Regions from separate parts of the Homo sapiens genome. Here regions 1 and 2 are each linked to region 3. Evidence: fine-mapped expression QTL. A gene starts in region 3. Each other region holds a variant in brackets. All regions are shown on one strand. Distances are from middle to middle.

Region 1 (2,760 bases), 180 kb before region 3:
AAAGGTTGCCAGATTAAGCAAATAAAAATACGGGATGGGCCAGGCACAGTGGCTCACGCCTGTAATTGCAGCACTTTGGGAGGCTGAGATGGGAGGATTGCTTGAGTCCAGGAGTTTGAGACCAGCCTGGGCAATATAGTGAGACTTTGTCTCTACAAAAAATAAACAAAATTAGCCAGGTATGGTAGTGCAAACCTGTAGTCCCAGCTACTCAGGAGACTAAGGTGGGAGGATCACTTGAGCCTGGGAGGTCGGGGCTATAGTGAAACATTATTGCACCACTGCACTCCAGACTGGGTGACAGAGGGAGACCCTGTCTCAAAAACAAACAAACAAACAAACAAAAAACAGGATATCCACTTAAAATGAATTTCAGATAAATGATGAATAATTTTTTGTATGAGTATGTCCCAAATATTGCATGGGATAAACGTATACTACTTTCATTGTTTACCCGAAATTCAAATTTATCTGGGTGTCTTCTATTTCATCCGGCAGCTCTCCAGGATGCCTGGGCAGCATGAAGCAGAAGACTCGGCCACTTGAATCCCCAATATGCCTCACCCATGTCTCCAGGAGACAGCCCTGCCTTCAGGGGAGGGTCTCCTTGCACTTCAAGCTCTTTGGATTAAGAAATGGTTTATAGGCTGGACGCAGTGGCTCACGCCTGTAATCCCAGCACTTTGGGAGGCCAAGGTGGGTGGATCACTTGAGGTCAGGAGTTCAAGACCAGCCTGGCCAACATGGTGAAACCCCGTCTCTACTAAAAATACAAAAAGTATCTGGGCATGGTAGTGGGCACCTGTAGTCCCAGCTACTCAGGAGGCTGAGGCAGGAGAATCACTTAAACCTGCGAGGTGGAGGTTCAGTGAGCCAAGATCGTGCAACTGCACTCCAGCCTGGGTGACAGACGAGGCTCTGTCTCAAAAAAAAAAAAAAAAAAAAAAAAGTCTATCTTTAATAACTCAACACATATAGACTGTCTCAAAAAAAAAAAAAAAGAGATGGTATATCTTTTATAAGTCAACACATATATTTGATGGCTGCCCATGAGCAGAAGAGCATTGTCTAAATGTGTAAGACAATAGGTCTGGCCACCAGAGACTTGAACCTCAGAGAGGTTTAATGGAAGCTTTAATGGAAGGAGAG[G/A]ACACCAAACTCACAGGAAACAACAAGATAGACGGTTAGGGTGAGGAGGGTGTTCGCTGGGCGGGGAGGACGAGGATAAAACCAGGAGATGAGGAACCAGGGGCTCCTCATCCCACAGCACATCCCCCTCCCCACTGACCGGGCACTCGGCACTCAGCCCTGCTCTTTGTCTTGTCCTTACACAGTTCTTCCCTGCAAGGTCCACACCCTGGAGCCAGTAATGGGCTTTGGATGCAGGCTTTTCAGTGAGGGAGTGGGAAGCAGTGAGGAGAATGACCTGAGACGGAGCCCCCTGGGAGAGCGGCAGATTTCACACTCTGTGCTGTGACTTGTCATTAGCAGCCCCAGAAGTGCACACAAAGGAGAAGAAAGGAAAATCGTCTGCTGACCCTGCCATGTTCTGAATTCAGTAGACACTTGTCTGGGCCCGTAGAGTCTCCCTTCTCCCCTTCTTTCCACCCTTCCTGCCTTTCTTCTTTATTTCCTGACCAGCTACCACGAGCAGGGCCTTTTACCTGACTGACTAAGGGAAATTGGCCAGAGTCCCACTCGTAGGAGGCAGGGAAATTAGGAAGGAAAAGGACTGAGGATGGAGAGATCATGTCCAATTCGAGAACCCAGGAAGGCTTCCTGGAGGAGCTAGCATTTTGTTCTGAGTCTTGAATACATAGTATTTGGACATGTAGAGACAGGGGAGAAGGAGGGCACACCCACACAGAGGAAGAGGGAGGGCAAGGAACAGGGCTGGGGAGGCCCAGAACACACAAAAGTATTGGTGGTCAGAATGAGTGACAACCCCCCTGAGGTTGGCTTCAGGATTCAAACCAGGGGTCTGAGGTAAAGGGAAGTGAGGTTTGCATCGTCCTGGGATGCTCAGAGAAACATTCTGGCCACTTGTTTACCTCTTTTTCTCTTTTCCTTCTGAAAAACAAGGAAATTCAGTAGACACTTGTCTGGGCCTTTTTCTTCTGAAAAAGAAGGAAAAGAGCACATGTTCTCTGTTGGAGGCTCATTTATAATTCAGGCAACCTCCTTCAGAGGGAGCAGGTGTTTCTCTGGGATGAAACACCTTGGGAAACAGAATGTACAAGTGGAAAAAAAAGCATGTCACAGCACAGCCAGGCAGAGAAAAGCTTGGGTCGAGGCAAGGGCAGAAGGAAGAGGAGGCGTGAGAAGACAAGGCAGCAAAAGACAGCAGCAATCCCTTCCCACCCAACATGCTCACGCTCTCCCTCTCTCTTTTCCTCTCTCTGCAAATCTGGATTGACATTACCCCCTTCAACCCCAGTGTCCATAATTCCATCATTAGAATGCCTTTCTTTGAGTCTTAATAGCTCCTCCTTCAAGACTACCCCCACCCCAACCTTTTTTTTTTTTCTTTTGAGACTGAGTCTTGCTCTGTCGCCCAGGCTGGAGTGCAGTGGCACAGCCTCGGCTCACTGCAACCTCCGCCTCCCAGGTTCAAGCAATTCTCCTGCCTCAGCCTCCCGAGTAGCTGGAATCACAGGTACCCACCACCACACCTGGCTAGTTTTTGTATTTTTAGTAGAGACAAAGTTTCCATGTTGGCCAGGCTGGTCTCAAACTCCTGACCTCAGGTGATCCACCCGC
Region 2 (2,760 bases), 48 kb after region 3:
TAAGTTTACAGTTAAGTGGTATTAAATACATTTGTGAAATGCAGCCGTTACCACTATCCATCTACAGACTCTTTTCATCTTGCAAAGCTGAAGTTCCATAGTCATCAGACATAACTCCTCATTCCCTCATCAGACAATAACTCCTCATTCCCTCAGCCATCATTCTACTTTGTTTCTCTGATTTTAACTACCGTAAGTACCACATAAAAGTATAGTCAGATGGTATTTGTCTTCTTGTGACTGGCTTGGTTCACTCAGCATCATGTCCTCAAGTTTCAGCCATGTTATAGTATATGTCAAAATTTCCTACCCTTTTAAAGCTGAATAATATTCTATTATATGTCTATACCACATTTTTCGTATCCATTATTTCGTTAATGGATACTTTGTTTCCATATTTTAGCTATTGTGAATAATATTGCTATGAAAACAGTATAATCTCTTTGAGACACTGCTTTTAAAATCCAAAGTAAAAGCAGTAAAAGAAGAGGTTTATAAAGTAGAAAAAGAAATGGGTAGAAGCATCTTTAAATCTCCTCCCTTTCATATTCCTTTTATTCCTACCTCCAGCTTGTCTCGATGATAGACCTGTACTTAAACCATCCACCACCTCTCATAAGGAGAGACAACTAGCACACTAGTCATAAAAAGCAAGGAACAAGAACTATAAAAGAGGGAAAAGAGAAAGAATGATTCAGAAAAGACTGTTCTGTACAGCCAGGAACCTACATATTTTACTGTTTCATAAAAATTATCAAAAAGATCTTCTAACAATTAGTGAATCTTACCATGTACTGGGCATTGTTTCCCACACTCGACAGGTCTATTGAGAAATGTCTGTTCAGATCATTTGCCCATTTTAAATGTGCCCATTTTAAAATATGATTATTTGTTTTTTTGCTATTAAGTTGTTTAAGCTCTTAATATATCCTGGTTATTAATCCCTTGTCAGACGGGTAGTTTGGAAATATTTTCTCCCATTCTGTGAGTTTTCTCTTCACTTTGTTGATTGTGTTTTTTTGCTGTGCAGAAGCTTTTTAGCTTGATGTAATCTCATTTGTCTTTTTTAGCTTTGGTTGCCTGTGGTTTTGAGGTCTTAACCTCAAAAAATCATTCATTCATTCATTCTTATGCATATGGATATCCAGTGTTCCCAGCATCATTTATTAAAGAGACTGTCCTTTCCCCATTATATGTTCTTGGCATCTTTGTTGAAGATGAGTTGGCTATAAATGCATGAATTTATACCTGGATTCTTTTTTCTTTTCTGTGTGTCTGTTTTTATTCCAGTACCGTGCTTATTTGGTTACTGTAGCTTTGTAGTAAATTTGAAGTCAAGTAGCGTGATGCCTCCAGCTTTGTTCTTTGCCTTGACCATTTGGGGTCTTTTGTGGTTCCATATAATTTTTAGGGTTTTTTTTCTATTTCTTTTTCTGTGAAGAATGTCATTGGTAATTTGATAGGCATTGCCTAGAGTCTGTATTTTATTTATTTGTTTTTTTGTTTGTTTTTGTAGAGACTGGGTTTCACCATGTTGTCCAGGCTGTAGTCAAGCAGTCCACCCACCTCGGCCTCCCAAATGCTGGGGTTACAGGCATGAGCCACCGTGCCTGTCCCTGAATCTGTAGATTACTTTGTTTAGTATTGTTATTTTTACAGTATTCCTCCACTTCATGAGCATGGAATAGCTTTCCATTTTGGGGGTCCTATTCAATTTCCTTTTTTTTTTTTTTTTTTTT[G/TTG]ATGGAGTCTTGCTCTGTTGCCCAGGCTGGAGTGCAGTGGCATGATCTTGGCTCACTGCAACCTTTACCTCCCAGGTTCTCTTCACAGCCTCCTGAGTAGTTGGGATTACAGGCACCTGCCACTGCGCCTGGCTAATGTTTGTATTTTTGGTAGAGACAGGGTTTCACTATGTTGTCCAGGCTGGTCTTGATCTCCTGACTTCAAGTGATCTGCCACCTCAGCCTCCCAAAGTGCTGGAATGACACGTGTGAGTTCATTTTCTTTAGTTAGTGTTTTATAGTTTTCCTGTATAGATCTTTAACTTCTTTGGTTCAATTGATTCCCATACACTTTATATTCTTTGTAGCTATTATAAATGTGATTGCTTTTTAAATTTCTTTCTTCTCTTTTTCTTTTTCTTTTTTTTTTTTTGAGACGGAGTCTCACTCTGTCGCCAGGGCTGGAGTGCAGTGGCATGATCTCGGCTCACTGCAACCTCTGTCTTGCAGGTTCAACTGATTCCCCTGCCTCAGCCTCCTGAGTAGCTGGGATTACAGGTGCCCACCATGACGCCCAGCTAATTTTTTGTATTTTTAGTAGACCTGGGGTTTCACAATGTTGGCCAGGCTGGTCTCGAACTCCTGACCTCGTGATTCACCTGCCTCGGCCTCCCAAAGTGCTGGGATTACAGGCATGAGCCGCCGTGCCCGGTGCTTTTTAAATTTCTTTTCAGATTGTTCACTGTTGGTATATATAATGCTATTGATTTTTCATGTTGATTTTGGATCCTGCAGCTTTACTAAGCATATGTATCAGTTCTTACAGTTTTTTTTGGTGAAGTCTTTAGGTTTTTCTAGGTATGAGATCATGCCATCTGTAAACAAGGCTAATTTGACTTCTTCCTTTTCAATTTTGGTGCCCTTTATTTCTTTGTTTTACTTCACTGCTTTTCCAGTACTATATGAAATAAAAGCGGTGAAAGTAGGCATTTTTGTCTTGGTCCAGACCTTAGAGGAAAGACCTTCAATTTTTCCCCATTCA
Region 3 (2,760 bases):
TTTTGTACACCGCTGACAACCAAATAGGGCTGTCACACAGAATGACAAGAAAAAAGGACACGTCCTCTTTCCTCCCCTTCCTCCTTTTTGCTTTTAGGGGAAGGCTAGGATGACATTGAGAACTCACACAAATTTTGTTTTTGACTCCTCAGTGTCCCCTGGGAAAAGGTGCATTGGCCTTTGTGTACTTGCTACAAGGCTGTGTATCCTTGAGAGCAGGACTCGGATCTTATTTATTTCTATCCCCGTTTCCTAGCAAGTGAACATATATGAACAATAAATGTTATCAAGGGAGAGGGCAAATTTCCCTCCCTGTTTCTTCTGAATTCTGAAGAGATTCCATTGTTAGAATGGTTTCTTACTGCAACCATCCCATTCACAGTCCATCAGCGAAGTCTTGAGAGTATGATGCCTGTCATGAGCCACTTTCACTACTAAATAAATTCCGTCCCTCTGTTAAGTTCCCGGCTGTTAGGACACCTCTGCCTTCAGCACCGTTTGACCCTTCTATCCCATTTTCTCTATGCAATGTTGCTTTAACTGTTGTTCAAGATCCCAGGATGCTTGATCCGGGAAAGCACAGAGGTCTGCTGCCAACATACCAACATACCTCTCTGTCAAGTTGTCCAAAATCACAAGAGAAAGAGCCCTGGACTAGAGCTAGGAGACCTGAGTTCTCGGCTGCTCTGTTACTGATTAGCGTCTATGTCCTTGGACAAGTTGCTTCCCTTTTTCCGGACCTCGGTTCCTTGTCCTAGATAGGTTCTAAAGTCGGTGGGTCCTTACAGTAAGTTAGGATTCTAAGGTGCAATCCAAAAGTAAAACCAGTGGTCAGTATACCTCTGAGTAGCTGTTAAGGTTACAATACGAGGTTCCTCGGCCTTCCCTTTGGTAGCCAATGGATACGGCCTCAGTCAGAGGCCGTCAGGTTTACTGGGAAGAGCCTTCCGGTTTTGAAAGACAGGATCTCCGGGTTTCCAGTTCTGTCACTCACTCGGGGTAACTTTGGGCAAATTCTCTCTGGACCTCCTAATAGGGAGGTCCTCGTCACCCCGAGGAAGTTCGAAGACGTGGGCAGTGACTTGGAAAGCTTCCCGAGATTCCCCTTCTATAACCTGGGTGGCTCAGACCGGGAGCGGGGTCCCAGCCGGCCGGTAATTCCGCCCGGAGGTGCGCACGAAACAAACCTGCAGCGCTGGCCGAGGGCGGCTCAGCTTCGGAGGGCGCGACTCCGGGTGAGTTCTTAAAGGGACCGTCAGAGTTTGGGTAACACCTGCGATGCTGACCGGGCGGGGACGCAGGCTTGAGGGAAATGAATGAATGAATGAATGAGCGAATGAATGAACAAACCTTCTCTGCCCACCCTTAAGTATACCATACTCGGAATTAATCAGTTAGGCTTAAAAATCTTGTACTATAACCCTCAAACTCTTGCCAAGTTAACCAGTGTCTCTATTTCATATGTCCTTCTGTAATGAAACCCCTCCCCCCAAGCCTATTACTAAGGGACGAAGAGTAACTTAACAATCAGCCTGGAGTGGAAGGCAATGCAGAGTTGGCACCCCTCCCCGAACTCCTCCCTCTCCCTCTCCCAGGCCCCGCCCTCCCCGCCCCCTGGGAGGTGCAGTTGGCTCCTCCTTAAGGCGGCTTTTCCCCGGTGGGGATCTACCCCCGGGGTCGCCAGGCGCTGTCTCTGCCGCGGAGTTGGAAACGGCACTGCTGAGTGAGGTTGAGGGGTGTCTCGGTATGTGCGCCTTGGATCTGGTGTAGGCGAGGTCACGCCTCTCTTCAGACAGCCCGAGCCTTCCCGGCCTGGCGCGTTTAGTTCGGAACTGCGGGACGCGCCGGTGGGCTAGGGCAAGGTAAAGGCGGGCTCCTCCAGGGCCACCCCGGGCCACCTGTGGAGTCCGAGTGTTAACTCCTTTGTTCTCAGAGCCACTTCAGCGGCCGCCCTTTTAAGCGAAGAGGTTCCCTTAGGATGCTCCCCGGGTACCCCTTCCGTTCCCCTGCCCTCCCCCGACCCGCCTCCCCCTTCCAACCCGAAGGTAGCAGCGCGGGGAGCCCGGGGCTCGGCGCGAGCCGCCTCCTCACTTCCCATTGGCTGAGAGCGCCGGGAAAGCGGTCACGTGGGAGCGCGGCAGGCCAGCTCGGGGGCCGCCATCTTGGCGGAAAGTTTCGGGGGAGAGCGGTTGGGGGCGCGGAAGGAGGCGAGGTTCCGGGGGTGGGGCGTGCGGCAGCAACTGGGCGAGCGGGCCGGGGGGCCGCGGCGAGCGAGGAGGCGGCGCGGCCGAGAAGGAGGACGAGGCCGCGGGGGTGCGGCGGCCCAGGGGAGCTCCTCCCCCGTCCCTTCGCCCCCTCCGCTCGGCTCCGCGGGCCCCGGGCGGGGCGGGGGTACGTGGAGCGGGGCCGGGCTGGGGAGCTGCTCCGAGTCTGGCCGGGGCGCACCCCAGTTCCGAGCGCACGCCGCTCACCGGAACTTTGTGGCGGCGCCGCAGGTGTGGGGGCCCGCGGAGGTGTGCATGCGGGGCGCGAGGGCGTCGCGGAGAGCGGCCGCTGCCCTGTCCGGCCCCCGCTGGAGCAGCCCGGAGGCAGCGAGCAAGGAGAAAGGCAAGCGAGAGGAGGGGGCCCGAGCAGGGCGGGCGGCCAGTCCCGCTGGTCCCCTCTCAGCGCTCTGCGGCCGCTGCTGGCTCAGGGGCCAAGGGTCGGAGCGCTTCACCCGCCCGTACCCAGTAGCAGGTGGGGAGTGTGGATACTTGTGCG

The links. PIP is the estimated chance that this variant, and not a neighbour inherited with it, causes the effect. A credible set is the group of variants that fine-mapping cannot tell apart.
Region 1: its variant is the best candidate, but not a certain one, in a credible set for the expression of DLG1 in whole blood (TOPMed, PIP 0.50).
Region 2: its variant is the best candidate, but not a certain one, in a credible set for the expression of DLG1 in whole blood (INTERVAL, PIP 0.87).

What each region holds. Positions count from the first base shown.
Region 1 is chr3:197,475,238-197,477,997 of GRCh38, reverse strand. It overlaps LOC105374309 (a long non-coding RNA gene), which reads right to left and starts at 12. Exons shown (of 2, transcript XR_924902.1): 1 at 1-12. The variant G/A (reference allele first, on the strand shown) is at 1,150.
Region 2 is chr3:197,249,960-197,252,719 of GRCh38, reverse strand. The region is part of intron 4 of DLG1 (discs large MAGUK scaffold protein 1); the gene reads left to right. Among named protein-coding and RNA genes, the nearest start is that of MIR4797, 43 kb to the left of the region's middle. The variant G/TTG (reference allele first, on the strand shown) is at 1,740.
Region 3 is chr3:197,297,520-197,300,279 of GRCh38, reverse strand. It overlaps DLG1 (discs large MAGUK scaffold protein 1), which reads left to right and starts at 1,668. Exons shown (of 25, transcript NM_001366207.1): 1 at 1,668-1,744. DLG1-AS1 (DLG1 antisense RNA 1) reads right to left here and starts at 2,033. Exons shown (of 3, transcript NR_038289.1): 1 at 1,670-2,033; 2 at 1,188-1,302. RefSeq lists silencers at 1,492-1,621, 2,112-2,741.